Linked DNA regions of Homo sapiens. The protein of the gene in region 6 purifies or fractionates together with the protein of the main gene of each other region. This does not show direct contact. Each region holds a gene or a part of one and is shown on either strand. Other genes may lie near its edges. The genes, in order: TANK, ATAD3A, NDRG3, TPM1, SDCCAG8, LARS1 and VARS1.

Region 1 (3,500 bases), on a different chromosome or scaffold from region 6:
TTAATCTTTTATTTCATTGTTTATATATATACACACACACACCACACACACACATATATGTACATATGTATGTGGCATTCATTCATTAATTCATTTATTTATTTATTTAGAGATAGGGTCTCACTCTGTTACCCAAACTGGAATGCAGTGTCATGATCATGGGTCACTGCAGCAGCCTTGACTTCTTAGGCCCAAACAATCCTCCTACTGAGTAACTGGGACTGCAGGCGTGTGCCATTCTGCGTGGCTAATTTTTTCATTTTTTATAGAGATAGGGATCCCCCTATGTTGCCCAGGCTGGTCTCAAACTGCTGAGCTCAAGTGATCCTCCCTCCTTGGCCTCCCAAAGTGTTTGAATTACAGGAGTGAGTCAGTGTGTCCAGCCCTATTTCTTTGTTAAATGTTTTCTTTGTTGAAATGCTTGTGATGTAGAAAAACGGTCAGTAGGAAATACAAAACCTCAGCCTTTATTTTACTTGAAAATAGTTCTTCTATTTAGAAATATTTAAGCCACATATTTGTATATATGGAACTTCTGTTTGGAATTCCAGCAGATCACTTCAGAAAAATAAAATGAGGAAGCTATGTCACGCATCAGCATTTAAATGCTGCTTTCTGCAGAAGCAATGTCTACCTTTGGTAGTTTTTCTCTTGCTATTCCTGAAATCACTTTATCTTGTGGCTGATCAAGAGTCAAATTATTCTTTCTTGTTTCACTGTCTTCAAGCAGAGGAACACAGCCATAATTGTTATCTGCAAGACAAAAACCTCTTGGACATTAGCAGAAAACCCTTATTTTTGGTACCACCTGAAAAAGCAAAAAATAATACAAACTCAAAACCATAAAGAGAATACATTTTAAGGTAGGAGTTTTAGAAAATTCTTTAGGTAATAGTTACTTTGACAAGTTGTCCATTTATATTTTTTCCTTCCCACTAAACAAACACACAAAACCCCTGCTCTCCAAAAGCCAGCAGTATGTAAAATATGCAGAATTTAGAAAACTAGAAATATGCTCTTTGCATCTGTCAGCAACAATTCAACTTTTATATTCACATTTTCAGGTATGCGTTTCTTATTTAAGATAATTATTTGTATTATGACTCCATGCTTATTATGGGAAAATTAGAAAATGCAGACAGCCAAAAAGAATAAAAAGTAAATGCTACCCAAATTTTTATCACCTGTGAATTATTCCAGTTAATATTTTGGTTTATATATTCTATCAGAATTCTTCTTTTCCTATACATATAACTTCACACAAGAATCACCTTTTTCTGCATAAATGAAAAAAACACTTATTTATGTATCCTGCTTTGTTCATTTTGCTATATATCGTCCACATATTCTTACAAGTTAATACCTATTATCATCACTTTTCTTGGCTACATAGCTATTCATATAGATCAGTGTAACTACTGAATATTTGTTTCTAGCTTTCCATGATTAGACATTATACTGTGATACACATCCTCGCATATATATTTTTGAGTACCTGAACAAATATTTTCTTATGATATAGTCTTAGGACTTGAGTTTTTGGTTCAAAAGGCATAGATGTTTTCAAAAGCTTTTGCTGCTATTTACTGGCAAATTGCTTTTTAGGAAGTTTTATAAACTTAGAGTTCTACCATATAGTATAGTATATGTGAAAGTCCACTTTCCCATATCCTGCAAGTGTTCATTTAAATAAACATAACATATAACTGTACCACAGTTATAATATCAAAACTATTGAGAAACAACGAAGGAATAAAATAGAAAAACTCAACTTACACCTTTCTTTTCACCAAGAGGTTCTAGAAATACATAAAAAATTAACATGAACATACCTTGAGTGGAATTCACAAGAAGTAACTGAGATTTTAGCTTGTCAATAATAGTCTGTTGAAGTGACAGCTGTTCCTGTTGTTCACGTATTCTCTGCTCATAGTTCTCAGTCTGCTGACATAAAAACCAGTTAGCCTGATATTCACTGATAGACATGAACATATATTTACCATCCATTGATAATATAAATAGATATGAGTTGCCCACATTGTCATTTTGCAGGTATTGTGATTTATGAGATACAAACTGGCTCCAGGAATGTACTTGTAATTGTTACAAACATCAGTGATTCAAGACACTTAAAGCACCGCAGAAGTTTTAAAGATTAACTTATTTAAAGACATTTCAGTCAAGGATTCAATCTATGATTTCCTGATCCTTCAGTAAGGATCAAAACTGTAATTTAGCATTTATTCCTTAATGGAAAAAAAAAAGCACAAATGATACAACAGATGCTATATTAAAGTGATTCTTTAAAAATACATACTAACTTAAAAAATTAAGATTTTGTGTCTTTCAAATAAACACACTTCTAAATTTATTTTTAGAGTACACAAACACTAAGGAAGTGTTGATACAAATCAAAGGGACAAATGCAAATTATAAAATTATACTGACCAGAAACTTCTCCACTAAGTTTTAAGAAATTAAGAGAATATAGTTGACCTTTGGTGTCTTAAATGCCAGTTTCCCTTATATTGTTAATCCATTAATTTTGCTATGTTATTGCAGTGACTGTGAGAATAAAGCAATGAAAAAAGACACAAGTTTGTACTGAGGAATACAGATGCTGCAAACATTCAAGCAAATTTGAAACTGTTGTATCACAATTACCAAATTAGTACAGTCTTAAAAGCGTATCACCAAACAATAGCAGAGAACTCTTTTTTTAACCAATTTCTATCCCTGGAGGGATAAATAAATAATGACTAAGTTGCAAATTCCTTGAAATATAAAATGAAAATGAAGTTCTAATAATCTCAGAATGATCTTCAGTAGATACTAGATATTTCACTTTAAACTGATTCTTAAAGTTCAAAATTAGTGAAGCTCTATTATTTTCAGAGACCAATAAACTTAAAAATTTTAATAAATTACATAGCTGTTCATAGATTAGCAAATATAAATTAGCTTAAGAAATTAAAGCTTGGGAGGCTGAGGTAGGTGGATCACGAGGTCAGGAGATTGAGACCATCCTGGTTAACACAGTGAAACCCCATCTCCACTAAAAATACAAAAAATTAGCCAGGCGTGGTGGCAGGCACCTGTAGTCCCAGCTACTTGGGAGGCTGAGGCAGGAGAATGATGTGAACCCGGGAGGCGGAGCTTGCAGTGAGCCAAGATCACACCACTGCACTCCAGCCTGGGCAACAGATCCAGACTCTGTCTCAAAAAAAAAAAAAAAAAAAAAAAAAGAAATTAGAGCTAAATACTACATTTTCCCAAATGAAAGGTGAACTTTTATAAGTAATACACTCCAAATATGAATAACTGACAAAGCTGATAAGCAACCCATGTGGTACATTGTCTTTGCACATTGCCTAAAGGCAGTCTTACATAGTTTCACATTCCCCACAGAATTCATATGGATTAAGTAACTTATACATAGGAGATGTTCAGTATATGTTCACTGAAAAATTAAAAAAGGAAATACGGATTCCAATTACATT
Region 2 (3,500 bases), on a different chromosome or scaffold from region 6:
CGGGAGGATCACGAGGTCAGGAGATCGAGACCATCCTGGCTAACACGGTGAAACCCCGTCTCTGCTAAAAACACAAAAAATTAGCCAGGTGTGGTGGCGGGAGCCTGTAGTCCCAGCTACTTGGGAGGCTGAGGCGGGAGAATGGCGTGAACCTGGGAGGTGGAGCTTGCAGTGAGCCGAGATGGGGCCATTGCACTCCAGCCTGGGTGATAGAGCGAGATTTCTTCTCAAAAAAAAAAAAAAAAAAAGCTGTTTTTCACACAAAGCTTACAGAGAAAAAGAAACTGAACAGAGGGCTGCAGCCTGGCCCAGGCAGACGGCTGTGCCCACCCCACCACCCCATTGTGGCCAGAGGCTTAGTGACACTCACGGTGGCTCGCTTCCGAAGGAAGGCGTCCGCTTCATCCACAAAGAGCAGGAGGCTGTGAACGAGAGGGAGGCCAAGCAGGGCGAGAGTGACACCAGGAGCAGCCCACAGCAGCGTCCGGCCGCGGCAGGAGCAGGCCAAGCAGGCAGATCCCCACGGGGTCAGGCTCTGCCCCATCAGCAGCCCTAAGTCCTGGACTCGACAGAAGCCGATCAGCCTGGCCTCTGGGCAGCTGACCACGGCCCAGCCTCAGAAGGCCGTGGGAAACCAACCACACACGGGGGCGACGAACTCCGCCCCACAGGCTTCACCCCCACCCGGCCCAGTGCAGCACTGGTGGCCGCTTAGAGTCCACGACAGGGACAGGTCTTCTAAAGTGAAAGGTCAAAGGCCAGAGGGGAGGGTGCCAACCATGAGCATCGTGGTTCCAACGAGGACAGCCGAGGCCACAAGGGTGCCCGGGCTGTGCCCTGCGCGGGGTCACTGTGGGACCTATTGAAGGGAGTGTGCCATGCTGTCTTCAGCTAACTTTCAAATGGTTCTAGAAAAGGCAACCAGTGCCCACGCCCACCTGCAGGCGTGTTGGGGGGAGGGCGGCTGTGGAGGAGCCTCCCCTGCAGCTGTGAAGACTCCTCTCCCCCTGCACCCACCCACCTCCCTTCTGCCCTGAGCCAAGTATCCCACTGGCAGCCTCCACACGCTGGGGGCCTCGTGTCCACCAGGGTCCACACTCAGGGGACTTTCCCTCCGAGGGACCCTCCACTGGGCCTCCTGCGTGGCCACAAGGACAGAGCTGCAGAAAGACAGGGTCCCCAAGAGACACCTGGACCCCCTTCCCAGAAGGCAGCCTGCTGGGCCGCAGCCAAGGGCCTGGTGCATGCTGTGGGGACGTCTCACCCGCGCCGGCTGGTATTGGCCCAGTCAAAGAGCTTGTGCATGGCGGTCACGCCTTCCCGCCCCATGGGGGCCACGTCCCCGCCTGTCATGATGGCGTAGTCCATGCCTGAGTGCAGGGCGAGTTTCTGGACAGGAAGAGTGAGGGGAGACAGAGCAGATGTTCCCTCCGCCTCTGCAAAGCCTGCACACTCCACCCGGAGTGTGGAGGCTCTGCCCAGCGTCCCTGCCTGGAAGCCACAGCCTGCCAGACAGGAGACGTCCCCCGCCTGGAAGATGGGAGGCGCTGCTGCCCACACCAGCACCCTGAGCCTACACGAGGGTGGGCAAAGGCCTAAGGGGGGTCCATTCCCCAGGCAGCTGAGCCCCCCAGACACCTGCAGGCAGGTGAGACCCCAGCGGCCCCTGGCCCACCTGTTCAGCCAGGCGCTCTCACCTTGGCAAACAGCGTCTTCCCGGTGCCTGGTGGCCCGTACATCAGGATGTTCCTGTACAGGCTGCGGTTCTTCTTGGTGTTCCTTGTTGCTATGGCGATGTCGCGCACCCGTGCTTCCAGGCTGGGCTGCCGGGGAAGACGGGGGTTTGGAGGAGACACTGTGCACCCATGGAAGCCTCAGGGGAAGGGGCTGCGGGAATGCCTGGGTGCAGACTCGGCTCCTCGGGAAGCCTCCCACCTCAGGGGCAGCCTATCTATCCCCAGCACGGTCCAAGCAGTCGCATCTCAGGACCCAAAAGCTCCTGGGTGCCACCACGAGCGCCAGCAAGGGCCACAGCCCGGCCCAGCTCCAGGGTCCCCTCCCTGCGCCTCCCCGGTCCCAGGCACACCGACTTACACTGAGCACAACACCCTCCAGCGCGTCCTGGGGTCGACTGAGGAGCCGCCGGCTGACCTGCCGGAGGGGAAGGGGAAGCGCCATCGGGTCACCTGCCACAGCCACGGAACAGCCACCAACGCGCACACACACGCTCGGTAACACGCAGAAACGGAGCTGCCCCAAAGCACAGCCAGGACCGGCCCGGAGCTGGAACCCTGCCCCGCCCGGAGACCAGGCGGCTATTGCTGGGATTAGGGGCATTTTCCGGTTCCTTATTGGCTTTTATTTTCTTAACCACCTACCCAGTGACCTGTGGAGAGCAGGCACCTCGGGGGCGGCGAGCGGCGCGGCTCCCCAGGGAGGCCACCAGACGCCGTGGCCTGTAGCAGCTTCCCTGATAGACGGCCGCACACCCAAGTCCCGGGTCTTGCAAGGACCCCGATGTGCTCCCAGGCCCCATCAAGAGCCCTGAGCAGGGGACACCGAGGCAGACAGGGGAAGGGTCTCACTGATGCAGACCCCTAAGGTACAGCGCCAGACAGGAAAACCCACCCGTGAAGCAGTGTGCGGGTGCCCGTTATCCGGGGAAAGGGAAGGGACGGGAGGGTGTGCGTGGGCTGTGCTCGTGGGGCAGAAGGGACTCAGCCAGGAACTGCACTCAGGGAGGGCCAGGCCTGCGCTGCTACCTGGATGGGGTGCCGCAGCGCCTCAAGCACCGTGATGCGGGACGTCTCCCTCACTAGGGACGGCTTCCCCAGCCGAGCCTCGATGAAGCGGCCGGCGACAAGCGTGGCATTCTTGGCTGAGTAGACCCCAACAGCCAGCAGCGTCAGCCCAGCCACCTGCAGCAGAGACACCGCACTGGCGCACCGGCCCCCACCGTCCCTCCCTCTTAGAGCAGGAGACGCACGGGGCTGCCCCCACCCTCTCTCCGCCCGAGGGAGAAGCACAGGGCCGTGCACTGGCCCCACAGGAACGCGAATTCCCGGCCCCGAATCCCACAGCCACGCGGTTACAGGAGGCAGGTGGGGCAGTCACAGCGCCCTCACTCAGGGCCATTTTCTCTGCAACTGGCAGCATAAATCCTAGAAAGCCTCGGTCGCTGAGCGGGGCCCTGGACAGACCCAGCCGGATGTCACAGGGCCACACCCTCTGGTACATTCTTGGCCACTAAAAATGGTACTTTATTCCTGGAAAACAAGACTAACCCAAAATCTCTAACTCGTTTTAAAAATCAATTAGGCTGGCTGGGCACAGTAGCTCAGGTCTGTAATCCCAGCACTTTGGGAGGCTGAGGCAGGTGGATCACCTGAGGTCAAGAGTTCAAGACCAGCCTAACCCACATGGAGAAACCCCGTCTCTACTAAAAATACAAAAAATTAGCTGGCCATGGTGGCACATGCCTGTAATCCCATCTACTTGGG
Region 3 (4,285 bases), on a different chromosome or scaffold from region 6:
CAAGACCAGCTTGGCCAACATGGTGAAAATCCGTCTCCACTAAAAATACAAAAAATAGCTGGGCATGGTGGCGGGCGCCTGTAATTCCAGCTACTTGGGTGGCTGAGGCAGGAAAATCGCTTGAACCCAGGATGCGGAGGTTGCAGTGAGCCGAGATTGCGCCACTGCACTCCAGCCTGGGCAACAAGAGCGAAACTCCGTCTCAAAAAATAATAATAATAATAATAAAACAAAAGCAGCTCGGCCTGGCTTGGTGGCTCACGCCTGTAATCCCAGCACTATGGGAGGCCGAGGCAGGCGGATCACGAGGTCAGGAAATCGAGACCATCCTGGCTAACACGGTGAAACCCTGTCTCTACTAAAAAAATACAAAAAAAATTAGCTGGGGGTGGTGGCGAGCACCTGTAGTCCCAGCTGCTCAGGAGGCTGAGGCAGGAGAATGGCGTGAATCTGGGAGGCGGAGCTTGCAGTGAGCCGAGATGGCGCCACTGTACTCCAGCCTGGGCAACAGAGCGAGACTCCGTCTCAAAAAACAAACAAAAACAAACAAAAAACAAACAAAAAACAAAAGCAGCTCAATCGTGAGTGCACGTTCAAGTAACATAAACAAGCTTTTTTTTTTTTTTTTTTTTTGAGACGGAGCTCTGTTGCCCAGGCTGGAGTGCAGTGGCGCGATCTCGGCTCACTGCAAGCTCCAGCTCCCGGGTTCACGCCATTCTCCTGCCTCAGCCTCCCGAGTAGCTGGGACTACAGGCGCCCACCACCACACGCGGCTAATTTTCTGTTATTTTTTAGTACAGACGGGGTTTCCCCGTATTAGCCAGGATGGTCTCCATCTCCCGAACTCGTGATCCACCCACCTCGGCCTCCCAAAGTGCTGGGATTACAGGCGTGAGCCGCAGCGCCCGGTCCATAAACAGGCTTTTTGATGCAAGACTCTTATCTGCAAGTTTTCAAAAACAACAGGGTGGATGGAGGCCTTTGAGTGGTAAATGGTGATGACAAGTTTAATCTGAAGGAAGAGACAAGCAAAGAGAAACTGAAGGGCAGGAAGGAGGAACAGAAGGGCACCAGAAGAACACCACGCTTTGAGTAATGAAAAGGGGGGGTGGAAATTAACTGAGTCCTTACCAAGGATCTACTGTGAGCCAGGCATCTGGAGCTGCAAAGATGGACCATGCCCTCAAGGGGCTAGAAGTCCGCAGGGTAAGACTGAGGCTAAGACCCTGTTTTGTGAACGTGTAATTCTAATTGGGAAAATCAAGCAGGGAAGGCTTCACAGAGAAGGTGGTGATTTAGTGGAGCCTTTGAAATGTGGAGGAGGATTTGCTAAGGGAGAAAAACGACAGTTTGAGCTAGTTATTTTGGGGGAGAAACATTCACATATTTTTATAGCTGTTCATTTGGAACTTTAAATCATGGGAGGCTTCTTAAATTCAGCACCACTCTATCAATGTTCTCTTTCTCTTCTTGCTTTATCTTAAATACTGAAATGTTCAAGCCCAACCTTGGGGCAAAGGCAGAAAGCCTCGGACAGAAAGCCCCGGAATGAGGTGAGTGCTAGCCAAATCTGCTCTGTCACCTCCAAGTCCAGCCCGCCCAGCTAGCCCAGTCAGCCCAGTCCTGCTCTCTTGGCAGGAAAGGAAGGCTAATAATATCCCCTGAGGGCCAGGGTAAGGGGGGGGGGGGGCGCGGCGGGGGTGATCTGGATGCCAGCAGGCAAGGATCACTCTTGTTCTGTCAGTAAGCCACCAAAGGAAAGCTTCCCTGCTTCCTAATCCACGGGGCTCCTAGTCTACCTGTGATAGGGAGGCCAGCTCTGCAGGAAGAAAAAAAGGGCTTCATGACAAGGAAGGGGGAAGCATTTGGATTGGGAAGTGCAGAGGTGGTTATGCGAGGTTATCTTAATAAAATGCTTAGCAAGATCCCTGGCACACAGCGAGCGGTGGAAGAACGTTAGCTCTTATATTAATAACACTATTATTATTACAGTAACACCTCAATTGTACTCCGACAACAAGAAAATCTTTTTTGTGCAGCCTACTTTTACGACGTTCGAGAGCAACTTCAGAGATGACAAGTGATTTCAAAATTTTTTCAAAGGTACGAGATCAAATTCCAACCGCACTGGCCTGAGAGCCCGAGACCCTGAGTTGAGAGCTGACCCTGCCACTTGTCAGCTGCGTGACCTTGGGCATGGCACTTCACCTTTCCGTGCCTCAGTTTCCTCGGCTGTTAAGTGGGGCTAAGAAGCCTCTCCCCGGTAGGGTAGTCGTAGGGTCCCGTTAGAGGATGCCCTCTGCTGCTCTGGGGCCGGACGGGTGCAAGGGCTGCTCACGGCCCCTCTTCCAAGCATCTGGGCTCTTGGAGCGGGCGAGGTAGATGGATGAGCAACCCCAAGGCCCACCAAGCTCTGCCGCCTGCAGAGCCAGAGCGAGAGAAGGGTTCGCGCCTGCGGGGGGCGTCCCTGTGACCCAGGGTGTTGAGCCCGGAGGGAGGCTCTCTTGCTACCCACACGCTGTCGCCGGCGGGCTGGGCGCGGGGAGCGGCCGAGGAAAGCCGGGCTGACCTGGGTCCGGCGGGCGGGCGGGGCGGGGCAGAGGGCCCCGGGGGCACGGGGGAGGCAAGCAGCACGGGCCACCAGGGCCTCGCCGTGCCGCGGAGATGATGCGGGGAAGGAGCAGGGCAAAGGAGCGACGCCCCCGAATGCGGCGCCGCGCGCCCCCCGCGGGCCGGGCGGAGGCGCTCACTCACCTGAGGCGCGGGCACCCGCCGTCAGTGCAGCAGCAGCGGCGGCGGCGGCGGCGGCGGCGGCGGCGGCGGCGGCGGCGAGAGGGGCGGGGGAGGTGCTGCGGTCCGCGCAGGCGCGCCGAGGACGCCAGGGCGGCGCATGAGTGCTGTGCCCGTCCACCTCGGGAACTACCGAGAAGATGGTGGCTGAGCCAGGAGAGGCCGGCGGCGCCATCTTTGATGTAGTTTTTCTTGCTGCGGAGTTTCCTCAGAGAAGAATCTCAGATTTTGGAGGCGCTGGGCGGCAGGGCCATTGAGCTCTGCGTCTGGAGCGCTTCCCTCAGTTCCCTGAGTCGCATCCTTATGAAGCCCCTAAGAGCTCTTGCAGGGTATGGCATCCTCCTTTTAAGGTGACCTAGAGCCATACCCAAGGTCACAGGGCGCCTAGCACAGTGCTCGGCACGTGGAAAGAGCTTAGTAAATTTTTGGTGAATGAACATAGTAATTTAAGAACTAGAGTCCAAGACTCAGGGCTCCGAATTACCAGTCCTCCATTGTATCACCCCTATTACAACCGTCAGCCAAATCATCTACTTTCTTGAATGCAACATTAGAGATGGAATTTTTTTTCCCAGAATGATTGCAGATATTAAACTTAATGACCCAACAATTTAACACCAAAATGTACAGGACACACTCTTCCTCTATTTATTATCTATTATTTCTTTACCATTAAGTACCACTGACTAAAAGTTTTTTTGTTTTGTTTTGTTTTGTTTTTTGAGACGGAGTCTCACTCTGTCGCCAGGCTGGAGTGCACTAGCGCGATCTCGGCTCACTGCAACCTCTGCCTCCTGGGTTCAAGCGATTCTCCTGCCTCAGCCTCCCGAGTAGCTGGCACTGTAGGCGTGTGCCACCGGGCCTGGCTAATTTTTCTATTATTAGTAGAGACGGGTTTTCACCGTGTTGGCCAGGATGGTCTCGATCTCTTGACCTCGTCATCTGCCCGCCTCGGCCTCCCAAAGTGCTGGGATTACAGGTGTGTGAGCCACCACGCCCTTTTAACCCGAGCCAGTGTCGCCATCTCGGCTCAGGTTCCCAAGTCCCTCAGCCTCCCAAGTAGCTGGGACTAGAGGCGGGCGCCACCATGCCTGGGTAATTTTTGTATTTTTTTTTTTTTAGTAGAGATGGGGTTTCACCATGTTGGCCAAGCTGGTCTCAAACTCCTGACCTCAAGCAATCCGCCTGCTTCTGCGTCCCAAAGTGCTGGGATTACAGGTGTGAGCCACCACGCCCGGCCACTAAAAGCATATTCTTTTAATTAAGGCAAACTGAACAAATGAATATTACCAAACATCTCAGAGGGCAGCAATAATATTGTTATTCATCAAGCACAATTCTTGAACTGAATTTAGTTGGAAGGAAAACTAACATTAATTGAGCACAGCCATTTATTTTATGGTTTATGTTCGTTAACATTTACTGAATTCAAATTAGTTCTAGTTCACCATCCACTATTTATCCCTATGTCCTTGGTTAGACAATTAAGTCTCTC
Region 4 (3,500 bases), on a different chromosome or scaffold from region 6:
TACAGCCAGAAATCGGACTCAAGAGTTTCACTCAACTCTTTCCTTCAAGCCACTTTATCATAGGATCCTTACAAAGGAACTTAAATAGTTTAAAATTCAGTGGTTCTAAAATACACACCACATGAAGGCCCAACACAATCCAGTAACCCCTTTTAGAATAACTGGCCTCATTGGAACAGAGCCAAGACAAATTTCCCAAGTGTTTTTGATGTAAGCCTATGATTTTTCTTTGAAGTCAAGGTTAATACAAGAAAAGTATCAAACTCCTAAAAAGAAAAATAATACAAGTACTGTTTTTACTTGGTATCTGTCACTGAAATAAAATGTTGGTTTCTTTGAGAGGCAATGATTTTTTTCCTGTCATAAGAAATTGTTGCTATGAGCCTCAGAACACTTATAAGACTATGATGGTCCATTATACACACTTGCACTGGTGGCTGTTTAAATATTGTGCATGGAAGTGGGAGATGGAATTTACTAATCAGGTAAAATATCCTCATCCACTTTGAATGTATGTTCACTAAGGGGTGGTGGGGTTTTCAGAACACTTAGGAGTTTTCTAGAAATTACAATACACACTTAGGGACCCATGGTAATAGGATAACAAATTTCTCTACACACAGCCCTGTCTTTGTCATTGAACTGTAAGCTGCTCACATCCAGAGAACTCACAGTTCTCTGCACAGAGTATGGGCTCAGTAAGATGAGTAAAACCAACCTAATTTTAATAAAAGCAACGTTCTCAGCTTATGGATCCACAATACAGAGTTGGAAATGCAAATGTAGTTAGAAACTGTGGTCATAGTCTTTAATCAAAGGAATCTGAGAACCTTCAGCTCTTTGCTCACCTAGATTTGTAAGATTTTAAATGCCAAGTTTTATCTGGGAAGAGAGGTGAGTAGGGCATCTCCAACCACGGTGAAGGACTCTATAAAAACATGTAAATACACTTTTATCTTGACAAAAATGTAGTAATTGGTTGATGGAGGCAGGGAGCAGGGCAAATGTGAAATAAATCAGAGGAAGAGCATTTACAACTGTACTGCCTACAAAGTAAATCATTATCAGTGCACAGCTGGTAAATGGACCCAGCTAGGAATTACTGGCAGATGACTGTTGTTTCTGGTGTGTGTGTGTATTGAAGGGTGAGGGTAATAGGATAACAAATCTCTCAATTATAGGGAAGTGTCTTTTAAAAACCATTAGGCTTTTTTTTTTTATTACTATTACTGGAAGGATGTATATATTAAGGATATACTTTTGGGTCAGGTAAGATTTCTTCACTTTTCTATATTTTCATTTTCCAGTAAAATTCTATTCCTTTTGAGGGTGGGGGGGAGACTCAAAGCGGAAGCAAAAACAAAGGGCAAACAAAACAAAACAAAATTTAAAGCCACACAAAAAAACCAAGCACACAAACCAAAAGCCCTACAACAACAAAAAGCCTCCATAGAGTGTCTAGGTTATGTACTCAAAAGCACTGTACACTTTCTTTTCTTTCCCCCTTTCTTATCATTTTCAATATGATGGCAAATATCCTTGTTACAGAGGCTATGGCCTATTAGAGAAATGCCAGCAAGATTTTCAAAACTTTTTTGTAGCTACCAAGTTCCAAGTTCTCTGCTCTGCTTTAGATCTGGGCCTGAACCTCAAGGACTTTGTACTCACAGAAAGACGACTGTTTATGCTTTGGGGAAAGAACCCTCTGGGTGACAGGTCTCTATCCCCAGCTCCCCACACAGCCGAGTCACCAGAAAGGAAGGAAACAGCACCTCATGTTCATTCCAGCCTTGCACATGAGATCTTCCTACCCAAAGGGCCCCTACCAATCCATCCGTGTCTTCCCTCCGATCACCCCCACCCCCATTCTTTCCCTTAGCTCTTGGCACTGTGTTTACAGAATGCTGTTGTCTAAATGCCACTCTTGTTTCCCCAGGGGCATTCTGTAGAACCTCAGACTCCTGGACATCAGAGAATATGTCCTACAGGAATACCAGCCAGCAGGGCTTCATACAGGGTGCCCCAGCAACGACTGGGCATGGAGACCAGTTTCTAGGTGCCAGTTTGTGATATAGTGGGAGGAATGGTAGGGCACACACAGCAGACCTGAGAGTGGCTGCCCCTTCCTGAGGAGGCCCTGTAAATCCAAAAAATAGGGTCTCAATTTTTTAGCTAGAAGGATCCCTAGGCATTGTCCAGATCAGCAATTCCCACAAGTGGCTGAGTGTCAGAATCAACTCAGAGATGAGCATTAAAAAAAAAACTTTCAGCTGGGCGCTGTGGCTCACGCCTGTAATCCCAGCACTTTGGGAGGCCGAGGCGGGCAATCATGAGGTCAGGAGTTCGAGACCAGCCTGACCAACATGGTGAAACCCCGTCTCTACAAAAAACACAAAAATTAGCCAGGCATGGTGGCACATGCCTGTAATCCCAGCTACTCAGGAGGCTGAGGCAGGAGAATTGCTTGAACCCGGGAGGCAGAGACTGCAGTGAGCCGAGATCATGCCACTGCACTCCAGCCTGGGCGACAGAGCAAGACTCTTGTCTCAAAAACAAAAAAAAAAAAAAAAAAATCAAACTTCCAGGCCGTGTCCCTAGAGATTCTGATTCAGGAGGTCAAAGGGGGAGGGCAGGAATCTGTACTATAAATAAACAATCCCCTTTGCCACCACCCAAAGAAGCTGGCTATTCTTCTAGCTCTTGACTAGAAACAGGCGGCAGGAGGGAACTCTGACCCTGGGCACAGAAGTATGTGGAGGCCATACAGCCATCAGTGTGAGACAGGATTAAGATCCAAGTCACTAGGCTCCCAGCATGCCGGCTCTCCACTATGTCACTTCTCCTGGCTTCCCGGAACATCACGGAAACCTTGGAACTGGCAGTTCTCACTCCTGTGTCTTTATCTCTCCTGAGATCAGATTGAGATGTTCTCCGGCCCCCACCCCAACTCCCCACAAAAGGCCTCAGGCACAGATCCTAACCAGGACTGGGAGAACAGTTGCTGCAATGCAAATCATCTGCTAAAGTGATTATCACAATCTTTTTGAAATGAGGCAGGATATAAAATTGAAAACTTCATAAAACAATGCTAATGGGTAATAGGAAGCTCACATAAGGACACGGAACATTTACTCCCTAGCCCAGAAGTCAATGCCTACTGCCCCAGAGGTTTCAGAGCAGGACAGGCAGAGGGGCTTTGAGGTTAAAGCCAGGACCTAGGAGTAGTATCTGAGGTACACCTATCTTTATGGGAAAACCCTGAACCCATGACAGGCTCTGCAGGCCCTATTATACTGGCCTAGTAGAATTTTTGTTTGGCTCGTTAGAATTCAAGATATGCTTAATTTTATAATTTAATCAGGGCCACTTTTTTCTCTTTCTTATTTTTACTTTTTATTCTGATTTATTATGCTCTATGTTCCAAAAGCCCCACACCTCTCACCTTTACTAGCTTTTATTTCTGGTATTTTTTTTTTTAAGTTTTGAGCTTATTTCAATAT
Region 5 (3,500 bases), on a different chromosome or scaffold from region 6:
TAATGTATAGTTTCCCAAATAGAGGGAAATTTGGGGAAGGATTCGAGAAACATCAGTTGATGTGTAACTCAACATTTGTTGGTAGAAGTCTTTTAAATTGTTTTATTTTATAAAAAGGACTTCAATTATGACAGTAGTTCTTTTCTATAGTCAATTTATTTTTTATTTTTATTTATCTATTTTGAGACAGAATCTCACTCTATCACTCAGGCTGGAGTTCAGTGGCACAATCTCTGCTCGCTGCATCCTCTACCTCTCAGGTTGAAGTGATTCTGATGCCTCAGCCTCCCAAGTAGCTGGGATTACAGGCATGCACCACCACGCCCAGCTAATTTGTGTATTTTTAGTAGAGATGGGGTTTTGCCTTGTTGGCCATGCTGATCTCTAACTCCTGGCCTTAAGTGATCTGCCCACCTTGGCCTCCCAAAGTGCTGGGATTACAGATGTGAGCCACCGTGCCTGACCTATAGTCAATTTAGAATATCAGTAATTAGGCAGCTTATTCTAAAGAATGATGGTGAGATTGACAACCCCTTTACATTGGGGAACTGTAAGTACCAGTTTGTGATGGGTAGTTTCAGTTGTGACTGTTATCTTGGTATAATTATTAATAGTGCCCCTTTCACTTTCAGATGGGTATTGGTGTTGGAGAATGCATTTATGTCACCCAATTGTTAGGGGTTGCAGAGCCCCAGATTTCTATCTCTGGCTCCTGCCCCGGCAGGGGGTCTGACTTGGGGATGGTCTGACAGGGCTTTTTGTTTTTTTAGCTGACTCCTTTAGCAGCACGGTCTCCAGCTGGCAGAGCCATTAGAACCATTCTCTTCTAAGCACCTTTTTCTAACACGTCTGAAAAGTTTTTGCCTCCTCTCGTAAGACTTAAGCAGATTCTCCAGCTACACGTTAAGATAGCAGCCTTCCTTTCCCCTATGACAAGAGTATAACAACATCCAATCATGAAATATTCACCACCCACTTCCTGTGTGCCAAGCACTGAGGCTGGGCTGAGGGTATAGAGAGATAAAGATGACAAACGAAGCAGACATGTTAAACAATAACTAAAGTGTGATAAATACTATCTTTGTACGATGTACACAACATATATTGAGGTCATTGAGGGAAGAATAGTTAATTCAGGAGAGAGGAAGGAGAGGGGAAGAATTTTGAGTTAGGCCTGAAGCGGGTAGTTGTATGTATACATCTTACAGGGGGATTGAGTGGGCAGGTGGAGGGGCTTTCCAGGAAGAGGAAGAGACATGTGCAGTGATCCATGGCCAGAAAATACATGGTGTGACTGGGGAGGCAAAAAGTAGCCTAGTCTGACTATCCATTTGTTGTATATACTGGTTTGGAACCGAGTGCGACGCAAGACCTTGGACCACATCCCGGGGGGAGGTGTTGTTATTAGAAGTACCAGACAGGACCTTATTTCACATTTAGCATGGACCCCCGATGATTCCATTTGAGTGAGGTGTGGGTGTATTTTCATTCCAGAATTTTATACTACAACATGACCACATGCATTGACCAATTTTAATACAGGCTTTCCTTATGTTGCTTTATAATTAGAAGCCAGTGAATTGAAGTTCCACAGCGGTACATAGACTAGTAGTGATAGCTTTATGGAATTGTTTATTTTTAGTTTGGCAAAGGCTAAGCAGTAAATATCTCAATTAGTAAACTAAAGCAGCATGGATGAGAAATGCCCGCAAGGAGATCAGGAGTTAGAAATAACTAAGTCAGTTAATTGAAGGAAACCCTAATATCACTTACCCATATTTAGAGTTTGAAGAACCATTCTAATATGTGTGTGTGTGTGTGTGTGTGTGTGTGTGCACATGTACATGCACACACACACTGTCAGTATCCACAGTGCTGCCAGCATTGAGGTCCTTTGCATTCCCCAGGTTCTAATTGTTTAGGAAGTTTCTCTCTTTGGAGCCACTGTGCTTGGTTATTGACCCAGTGGGATAGGTCAGTGTCCTATCACAGTACGATGGGTTGTTGTCTGACTACAGAAGCTTTTCATCCTGCAATTTCTTTCAATGTGACCCACGAGGGATTTTATTATGAAGTGCTGGGGGAAGTTATTCGTATTCATATTTGTATTCATATTCACATTATATGGCCTGATGTGTGAAGATATTTAGTGAAAACATGAATGTGGCACTGCAGAATCATTTACTCGCCTCTAGATAGAGGCTCCTGCATTATATTTAAGATTCCATTTTAAGTTTAGAGTGAAAACAGAGGTGGTCTACAAAGCTTAGTTTTAAGAATTTAAGTTTTGTTCCTAGAGTTCCAGTATCTCTGGGAAAGATTGACCACTCAGAAGATGAAACATTCATTGATAGTGTAAAACATTAAGAATATTAGAGAAAAAAGTTTTGTGTTTTAAAGTTACAAAATACCATTATTTAGTTGTTATGATGTTTTGACACTGCACACTTTAGTCCATTTGGATTCATGGCACGTATTTAACACTGTATGGAAGGTTGTTTGGATCTTCCCCCTAAAGTGGGGGAGGGTCATTAGAAAGGTCCTTGTCTTCTTATGCTTAACAATTTACTACGTATCAGCTCTCTCTGGTCTATAGGGGACATGATGGGGGTTTGTGCATCTGCAGATTAAATTTCTGTATGTCTCCTCTCTGTTTTGCAGACAGGAAAAAGATAGCATTCAGCAGAGCTTTAGCAAGGAAGCAAAGGCCCAAGCCCTTCAGGCCCAGCAAAGAGAGCAGGAGCTGACACAGAAGATACAGCAAATGGAGGCCCAGCATGACAAAACTGGTAGGTGGTAGGGAAAGATTAGAGCCTGGGCACTAGCTCACAAGTCAGGCCCACGCCTTACTGTGAAATGACATCAGGAACACCTGTAACCTTTGGCTGGCCGAAGGGAGCAGATGCTAACTACACCGGAGATTCCGAATTACATATTAGTTAGCGTTTAAAAGAGAAAATGGAAAGTATTGCCCACTGTCTGTTGATTTCAGAGTGCTGCTCTCACATCTGTTGCACCATCTGGATTATGAGTTTATTTACCTGTGTTCAAGAAACGTAAAGCTGAGAGAGACCACAACAAAGTAGAAAAACAAAGGGCTTGTTTTTGGCTGGGTTTTCAGGCACACATGTTATATAAAGAAAATAGCATCAGAAGCTCTGCGGGAAATGCTCTGAGCTTACAGTTAGAGTCTCCTGAATAGCATTGAACAGTTCCCACAGTACACACATTATAGCTACTCTAAAAGCCTAATGAGTTTGCTTCAGCATCCAAACTGGAGAAAAGCTTTAGCCATTAATCGGTTCTTAATTCACTGTCGCAGCTGGATGTAATTCAGTGGCTCCAAATTGATATGTTCCTTTATTTAATCTTTGCAGCTTCGAACATTTTTAGCATTTGTATGATTTCCCCACCTCCCCCAACCCAATCTAGAGTGATGTTTAATCCTTTGCATTCTTCAAGTTCTCACAACTGCTGTTAAAATTCACTAATACAAGGCA
Region 6 (3,500 bases):
TTCCTCCCCATTATAGCAAACATAGGGAAACATTACCTCACATTTGGATAAAGAAAACGTGTGTCCCAAATGAAGGCGTCCATTCATATATGGATATGGGAAGGTTACAAAATACTTGCCCTTGCTGCAAAACAACAGTATAAAAAAGAAAGTACAGAAGAATAAATGTTAAGTTCCTTTTACAATAAGGAAGTGGGGTGAAGGAAATGCTTGATATAAATAACTTAAGGTTATTTAAAAAATATTTAAAAGTAAATTTATAAATCTACAAATTTAAAACTCTCTAAAATTGAAAATTACTTTAGATTTACAAGAAATAAGACATTGATAGGTTGCTATTAAGAATTAAATAGCCTTGTAACAAATACTAGAGGTTTAATTTGAGCTAAAATACTTGAGTAAAGATAATATACTAGGTCAGGCGTGGTGGCTCACACCTGTAATCCCAACACTTTGGGAGGCCAAGGCTGGTGGACTGCTTGAGGCCAGGAGTTCGAGACCAGCCTGGGCAACATGGTGAAACCCTGTCTCTACTAAAAACTAGCCGGGCGTGATGGCGTGCGCTGATAATCCCAGCTACTCTAGTGGTTAAGCATGAGAATCAAGAATCGCCTGATCATTGAACCTGAGAGGCAGAGGTTGCAATGAGCTGAGATCATGCCACTGCACTCCAGCCTGGGCGAAAATGAGACTCCATCTCAAAAAAAAAAAAATTCTTTAATACCCTTATGAACCTAGGCTAATTTAATATTTTACTGAATAAATGAGATTTGTTTTCACTAGATACTAGATATATATATAAAGCAATTCAAAGTCCCTCAGGTAATATAAAACATCCTCAATATTACTTGATATGTGGTAGATTCACTTTAAACGCATCCTTTAAAGCTTTTTTTTTTTTTTTAATTTTTTAGTTGTTTTTGTAAAGACAGGGTTCTCAATATAAGAACCACCATGAGCATGAGCTCATGAGCCACCATGCTTGGTCTGTATTCTTTTTTCTTATGAAGAATATCTAACATACATACTGTGTTATGAAGCATAATAAAATGAACACTTGTAAACACACCATCTGACTTATGAATCCACTGAAACTACCTGTTTCCTCTCTACTGTCCCACAAGAGATAACCGACATTCTGAAATTTGCTTTTACCGTTCCCTTGTTTTTGAATAGTTTGCACACTTGGCAGCACCCTTAAACTATTTATCATTTAGTTTCGCTCACTTGTGAGTTTCATACAAAAAAAAGGCATACTTCATATAGACTTCTGCAATTTGCCTTCTTCACTTGACATTATATTACTTTCTTCAGTCTTACTGCATACACCTATAGTTAATTCTCTTTCACTAAACAAAGCAGCTTTTTCAGTTCACTTGTAATTATTTTAAATTACCTTAAAGTTAACCAAACCTCTAGAAGAAAATAGAAGCTTCAAATTATAGCTTCAAGTATAACACCAGAGACTATATTACAGCAATTTCTTTTTCTCTTAAAAAAAAAAAAAAAAAAAAAAGGCTGGGGCCTGGTGGCTCACACCTCTAATCCCAGCACTTTGGGAGGCGGAGGCGGGCGGATCACCTGAGGTTGGGATTTCAAGACTAGCCTAACGTGGAGAAAACCCGTCTCTAGTAAAACTACAAAATTAGCTGTGCGTGGTGGCGCATGCCTGTAATCCCAGCTACAGGGGAGGCTGAGGCAGGAGAATCGCTTGAACACGGGAGTCGGAGGTTGCGGTGAGCCGAGATCACACCATTGCACTCCAGCCTGGGCAACAACAGCAAAACTCTGTCTCAAATATATATATATATATCCATATATATATATATATATCCATATATATATATATCCATATATATATATATATATCCATATATATATATATATCCATATATGTATATATCCATATATATATATATCCATATATGTATATATCCATATATATATATATATATATCCATTAGAATATAGCTTAATAAGCAAGGAAAAAAGACTTTTGAATCAGAAAGTCCTAAAAACAAGCCCAGGCCCAGTCAATTCCCAGTGATGTAACCTTGAACTGGTTACTTAGCCTCTCTGTGCCTCAGTTTCCTCAGCTGTAAAAGAGAAATTTTAAAAGCTGTTAACCTTAAAGTATATTGAGAAGATTAAGGCCAGGCATGGTGGCTCAAACCTGTAATCCCAACACTTTGGGAGGCAAAAGTGGGAGGATTACTTGAGCCCAGGAGTTCAAGACTAGCCTGGGCAAGACAGTGAAACTTCATTTCTACAAAAGAAATTTTTTCAATGCTGGGTGCAGTGGCCCATGCCTATAATCCCGGCACTTTGGGAGGCCGGGGTGGGCAGATCACTTGAGCCCAGGAGTTGGGACCAGCCTCAGCAACATAACAAGACCCCATTTCTACTAAAAATAGAAAAATTACCTGGGTGTGGTGGCGTGCGCCTACAGTCCCACCTACTCAGGAGGCTGAGGTGAGAGGATCACCTGAGCCCAGGAGACAGAGGTTGCAGTGAGCTGAGATCACACAACTGCACTCCAGCCTGGGTGACAGAGGCTCGCTCCATCTGACACCACAGACTCTGTCTCCAAATTAAAAAAAAAAAAAAGATAATGGGCGGGCACAGTGGCTCACGCGTGTAATCCCAGCACTTTGGGAGTCGGAGGCAGGCGGATCATTTGAGTTTGAGACCAGACTGGCCAACATGGCAAAACCCCGTCTCTATTAAAAACAAAAATTAAAACTTAGCCAGGCGTGGTGGCATGCACCTGTAATCCCAGCTACTGGGGAGGCTGAGGCAGAAAAATCATTGAACCCGGGAGGCAGAGGTTGCAGTGAGCCGAGATCATGCCACTGCACCCAGCCTAGGCAACAGAGCAAGACTCCACCTCAAAAAAAAAAAAAAAAAGGCCGGGCGCAGTGGCTCACGCCTGTAATCCCAGCACTTTGGAAGGCCGAGGCAGGCAGATCACGAGGTCAGGAGATCGAGACCACAATGCAACCCCATCTCTACTAAAAATACAAAAAAATTAGCCGGGCATGGTGGCAGCCGCCTGTAGTTCCAGCTACTCAGGAGGCTGAAGCAGGAGAATGGCGTGAACCCGGCAGGCGGAGCTTGCAGTGAGCCGAGATTGCGCCACTGCACTCCAGCCTGGGTGACAGAGCAAGACTCCGTCTCAAAAAAAAAAAACAAAAACAAAAAAAATTAAAAGGTAAAATGAGGCCAGGAGTGATGGCTCATGTCTTATAATCTTAAGAGCTTTGAGAGGCCAAGGCAGAAGGATCACTTGAAGCCAGGAGTTTGAGACCAGCCTGGGCAACATAGCAAGACCCTGTCTCTAAGAAAAAACAAATTAGCCAGGCATGGTGGCGCATGCCTGTAGTCCCAGCTACTCAGAAGGCCGAGGAAGAAGGATTGCTTGAGCTCGGGAGTTTGAAGTTACAGTGAGCTATGACTGTGCCACTGCACTCCAGCTTGAATGACACAGCAAGACTTTGTCT
Region 7 (4,091 bases), on a different chromosome or scaffold from region 6:
CAGTCTTGTTCTTCCCCAGGCCTGGTGACTCACGTATCGGAAAGGCAGCAGCAAGGCTGTGACAGCCGCCAGGTCAGCCAGAGTGGGGGCCTCCCCGGCCAAGTAGGTGTGCAGCCGAAGCCACTCCTCCAAGGGGCTCAGGGCCCTGCCCAGGGCCCCCAGCACAGCCTGGCAGGAAGGGGAAGAAGTGTGAGACAAGGTTTGGCCCACCTCCATCTCCCACCACAACCCAATCCATGTGGCCTCCCTCCACCCCACTCTCACAAATCACCACCTCTGAGTCCCATTTCTTCACTCAAATAGTCACAATAAAAATACTTCTGGGCGGATCACGAGGTCAGGAGATCGAGACCATCCTGGCTAACATGGTGAAACCTCATCTCTACTAAAAATACAAAAAAAAAATAGCCAGGCGTGGTGGCGGGCGCCTGTAGTCCCAGCTACTCGGGAGGCTGAGGCAGGAGAATGGCATGAACCCAGGAGGTGGAGCTTGCAGTGAGCCGAGATCACGCCACTGCACTCCAGCCTGGGCAACACAGCGAGACTCCGTCTCAGAAAAAAAAAAACAAAACACTTCTGACTCATCCAACAAATCCCTACTCAATACTTATGTGTTAGATGCAATATGTTAAGCATAGAAGTAAAGATTATATGAGGCATCTCAATAACTGCCAGGTTCAGAACATCAATAAATATGTATTAAGTACTTCTCCAGGGAATGAGAGGAAAACACGAACAGATGGACAGAACCCTGACCTGGTAGAGTTAACATTCTTGTAGGGGAACAACAAATGAGCAAATATAAAATGAAGTGCCCTATTTTTCTTAACTCCTATGAAGAAAAATAAAGCAGAATGAGGGGAACAGGGGCCAGGCGTGGTGGCTCACACCTATAATCTCAGCACTTTGGGAGGCCGAGGCGAGCAGACCATCTGAGGTTAGGAGTTCGAGACCAGCCTGGTCAACATGACAAAACCCCATCTCTACTAAAAATACAAAAAATTAGCCGGACAAGGTGGTGGGCGCCTGTAATCCCAGCTACTCAGAAGGCTGAGGCAGGAGAATCGCTTGAGCAGTGAGCTGAGATCGCACCATCGCACCGTGGCACTCCAGCCTGGGCAACAGAAGGAGATTCTGTCTCAAAAAAAAAAAAAAAAAAGAAAAGAAAAGAAATAAAAGAGGGGAACAAACAGGGAATTCCAGAAGAGAGGGACTCTATTTTATTTGTTTGTTTGGACAGACATTCTGAATGCAAGGACTCTATTGTAGATAGGGTGATCACAATATGAGGGAGCAAGTCAGGGTCTGCCACATTCATTCATCCATTCAAGAAATACTAATTTTCCATCATGTGCTCAATACCATGCAAGGAGGCAGAGTTGAAAGTACACCAAGGCACAGGTCTCCTTTGGAAGGACTGATAGTTACAATCTGGCAGGGTTATCTCTCCTCTCACTTACCTTCCTCATTTCATTTCTCTTTTATCTCCTCCCAGCAATTGTCATCTCTCCCTCACCCAGTCTTTTCCTACAATTCAAATAACTTCTATCCTCATCAATTTCAGACTCATCAAACTTTTACTAAGAGACTTTAAAAGTGCCTGGCACTAAACTATGTGCTCTGCGCACATCTTTTAATCCTATTAACTCAGTGAGGCAAGCATTACATCAACTTGCCTGCGTGTTCATAGACATAGGAAGACCAAGACACAGCGGGTCTATGAAACGTGCCCAGGGTTACCATACCAGTTGGCAATCTGGGATTTGATCACTCTTTTCCCACATCTGATGTACTACCTTCTTGTCTCATTGTCCATTCCAGTCCTCGCTTCCCTCCTCTGAATTTCTCCCCTCCCCCTCTTCTGTACAACCCCCTCACCTGGGGGTCCTGGGCCGAGCTTCGGAGTCCCAGGGCCGGCAGCGTTGCTCCACAGGCAGCTGGTATTAACTCCGTGTCGGCGTAACTGACCCACTGTTGGACAAGGACAGCCGCCCGGCTGCCCCCTGGGCCCCCCAGGCCTGCTGGCCACAGCAGCTGGGCCACAGCCGTGGCCCCCCACACCCAGAGCCCACCGGGCCCCTGCTCCAGGGCCGGCAGGCGGGGTGGGGGAAAGGGAGTCCTGCTAGTCGGGGGTGGCTGGAGACAGATGCGGGGGTGGGCTCCTCCCCATCCGGGACCCTCCCCAGCCTCCCCATAGCGAGCGGCTATGAGGGCTCGGAGGCTGGGGAAGGCATCTGGGTGAGGGGAGACGTAGAGGGTGGACATAGTTATGAGAAGGTCCGAACGAAGTGGAAAAACCTAAGGAGAAAGAGAGACAGGGGAAGACTGCGGGATCGAGGTGGGTCCTATGTTTGAGTAGAGAGGGGACCCTCACGGGAGCTCCTTCGCCGCAGACACCCGAGTCCCATAGGACTGAGGGTCTGACCAGGCAGGCTGTCAGGAGCCGAGGACCTGGCTCTCAGAGGGGCAGTGTCAGTGGGGAGTTCCTGGGGAAGAGGAACTATCCACCATCGCGGGGCTTCGGGGAGTGTGGAAGGCTCTCAGGAGCGGGTCGGCGTCTGGTTGGATGCGGGTTCGAGCCGCGTGTACGTACTGGAGGGAGATGGTCAGACTGGGCCGGGAATCCACCTCACAGCCAGGCGCCGGCCGCGGCTGGACCGGCCGAGCGGCCCGGGCGGAGGAGTCGAGCGGGCAGAGACGGTGGGCGGCTCTCCAGGTGACCCTAGTTCCCTAAGATCGCCGCCCCGGCAGCCGGCGCCCACGTGTTCCCCCCTTTGTGACAGGGAGCGTTTCCGGGCCTGCGGGTCCTGGCGGGGGCGGCCGTGCCCCGCCTGCGAGTGCGCGCCCGCCGTGTCCGACACTGCCCCGGGGGCCGCGCGGCTCGCCGCCCGCCGGTCTCACGAGGAACAGCGCGGGGCGCGGGGCGCTGGGCGCGGACGCAGGACGAGAGGACACCCCTGAGCACGACGCTCCCGTCAGGCGCCGCCACGGGCACCTTGTGCGGGTCCTCGGCCGGGTGGCGAGGGCGGCGCCCAGCGGGCAGCTAGGGAACTGGCCCAAGAGGGTCGGCCGGCCCTGCCGGTGGAGGGCGTTCCCCACCCGGTAGCGGGGAGGTGCCCAGCAGGGAGCCGCCTGATGAGGACCGAAGGGGAGGTCCATTTGCCGAGGCCCTGGCGTCCAGCTTCCTCTTTGAGCCTCATCTCCTCATGTATGAAAAAAGGGTGACGGCCGGGCGCAGTGGCTCACGCCTATAATCCCAGCACTTTGGGAGGCCGAGGTGGGCGGATCACCTGAGGTCAGAAGTTCAAGACTAGCCTGGCCAAGGTGGTGAAAGCCCGTCTCACGCCTGTAATCCCAGCACTCTGGGAGGCCAGGGCGGGTGGATCACCAGGTCAGGAGTTCAAGACCAGCCAGGCCAAGATGGTGAAACCCCGTCTCTACTAAAAATACAAAAATTAGCCAGGTGTGGTGGCAGGCGCCTGTAATCCCAGCTACCCCGGAGCCTGAGGCAGGGAATTGCTTGAACCCTGGAGGTTGAGGTTGCAGTGAACTGAGATCGTGCCACTGCACTCCAGCCTGGCGACAGAGCTGCAGTATTTGTAAAAATACAAAAATTAGCCAGGCGTGGTGGCACACACCTGTAAGCCCAGCTACTTGGGAAGCTGAGGCAAGAAGATCACTTGAACCTGGGAGGCGGAGATTGCAGAGCTAAGATCACACCACTGCAGTCCAGCCTGGGTGACAAAGTGAGACTCCATCTCAAAAAAAAAAAAAAAAAAAAAAAATTAGCCGGGCATGGTGGTGGGCATCTGTAATCCCAGCTACTCAGGAGCTGTGGCAGGAGAATCGCTTGAACCGGGAGGCGGAGGTTGCAGTGAGCCAGACCAAGCCAGTGCACTCCACCCTGGGCAACAGAGTGAGACTCCCGTCTCAAAAACAAAAAGGAGGGTCACACTAGATGGTCTCTAAGGGTCCCTTAAGGCTGAGAAGTCTCATCTGTATCATGAACTCATATTTGCTGAATGAGTGAATGAAGTTTAGTAATTCCCAGTCACAACTTTTCTCTAAAATATAAATTACATCACTTGTAT

Evidence for each region.
Region 1: the proteins of LARS1 (region 6) and TANK purify together in Homo sapiens (tandem affinity purification; one large-scale study listed by IntAct). This does not show direct contact.
Region 2: the proteins of LARS1 (region 6) and ATAD3A purify together in Homo sapiens (affinity purification with mass spectrometry, with the first as the bait; one large-scale study listed by BioGRID). This does not show direct contact.
Region 3: the proteins of LARS1 (region 6) and NDRG3 fractionate together in Homo sapiens (co-fractionation; one large-scale study listed by BioGRID). This does not show direct contact.
Region 4: the proteins of LARS1 (region 6) and TPM1 purify together in Homo sapiens (affinity purification with mass spectrometry, with the first as the bait; one large-scale study listed by BioGRID). This does not show direct contact.
Region 5: the proteins of LARS1 (region 6) and SDCCAG8 purify together in Homo sapiens (affinity purification with mass spectrometry; 2 studies listed by BioGRID and IntAct, with this or other methods). This does not show direct contact.
Region 7: the proteins of LARS1 (region 6) and VARS1 purify together in Homo sapiens (affinity purification with mass spectrometry; 2 studies listed by BioGRID, with this or other methods). This does not show direct contact.

What each region holds. Positions count from the first base shown.
Region 1 is NC_000002.12:161,201,928-161,205,427, reverse strand, and holds part of TANK (TRAF family member-associated NF-kappa-B activator), read right to left. Parts: intron 1,942-3,500; coding exon 1,833-1,941; intron 754-1,832; coding exon 635-753; coding exon of another isoform or gene 602-634; exon of another isoform or gene 452-601; intron 1-451.
Region 2 is NC_000001.11:1,522,162-1,525,661, reverse strand, and holds part of ATAD3A (ATPase family AAA domain-containing protein 3A), read right to left. Parts: intron 2,919-3,500; coding exon 2,763-2,918; intron 2,152-2,762; coding exon 2,095-2,151; intron 1,824-2,094; coding exon 1,698-1,823; intron 1,390-1,697; coding exon 1,265-1,389; intron 423-1,264; coding exon 371-422; intron 1-370. UniProt on the Homo sapiens protein: Essential for mitochondrial network organization, mitochondrial metabolism and cell growth at organism and cellular level. May play an important role in mitochondrial protein synthesis. May also participate in mitochondrial DNA replication.
Region 3 is NC_000020.11:36,743,291-36,747,575, forward strand, and holds the start of NDRG3 (protein NDRG3), read right to left. Parts: upstream 2,801-4,285; 5' UTR 2,755-2,800; exon of another isoform or gene 2,209-2,754; intron 1-2,208.
Region 4 is NC_000015.10:63,052,747-63,056,246, reverse strand, and holds part of TPM1 (tropomyosin alpha-1 chain), read right to left. Parts: intron 1-3,500. UniProt on the Homo sapiens protein: Binds to actin filaments in muscle and non-muscle cells. Plays a central role, in association with the troponin complex, in the calcium dependent regulation of vertebrate striated muscle contraction.
Region 5 is NC_000001.11:243,413,041-243,416,540, forward strand, and holds part of SDCCAG8 (serologically defined colon cancer antigen 8), read left to right. Parts: intron 1-2,661; coding exon 2,662-2,789; intron 2,790-3,500. UniProt on the Homo sapiens protein: Plays a role in the establishment of cell polarity and epithelial lumen formation. Also plays an essential role in ciliogenesis and subsequent Hedgehog signaling pathway that requires the presence of intact primary cilia for pathway activation.
Region 6 is NC_000005.10:146,172,651-146,176,150, forward strand, and holds part of LARS1 (leucine--tRNA ligase, cytoplasmic), read right to left. Parts: intron 125-3,500; coding exon 37-124; intron 1-36. UniProt on the Homo sapiens protein: Aminoacyl-tRNA synthetase that catalyzes the specific attachment of leucine to its cognate tRNA (tRNA(Leu)).
Region 7 is NC_000006.12:31,792,953-31,797,043, forward strand, and holds the start of VARS1 (valine--tRNA ligase), read right to left. Parts: upstream 2,801-4,091; 5' UTR 2,594-2,800; exon of another isoform or gene 2,299-2,593; 5' UTR 2,266-2,298; coding exon 1,879-2,265; intron 169-1,878; coding exon 34-168; intron 1-33. UniProt on the Homo sapiens protein: Catalyzes the attachment of valine to tRNA(Val).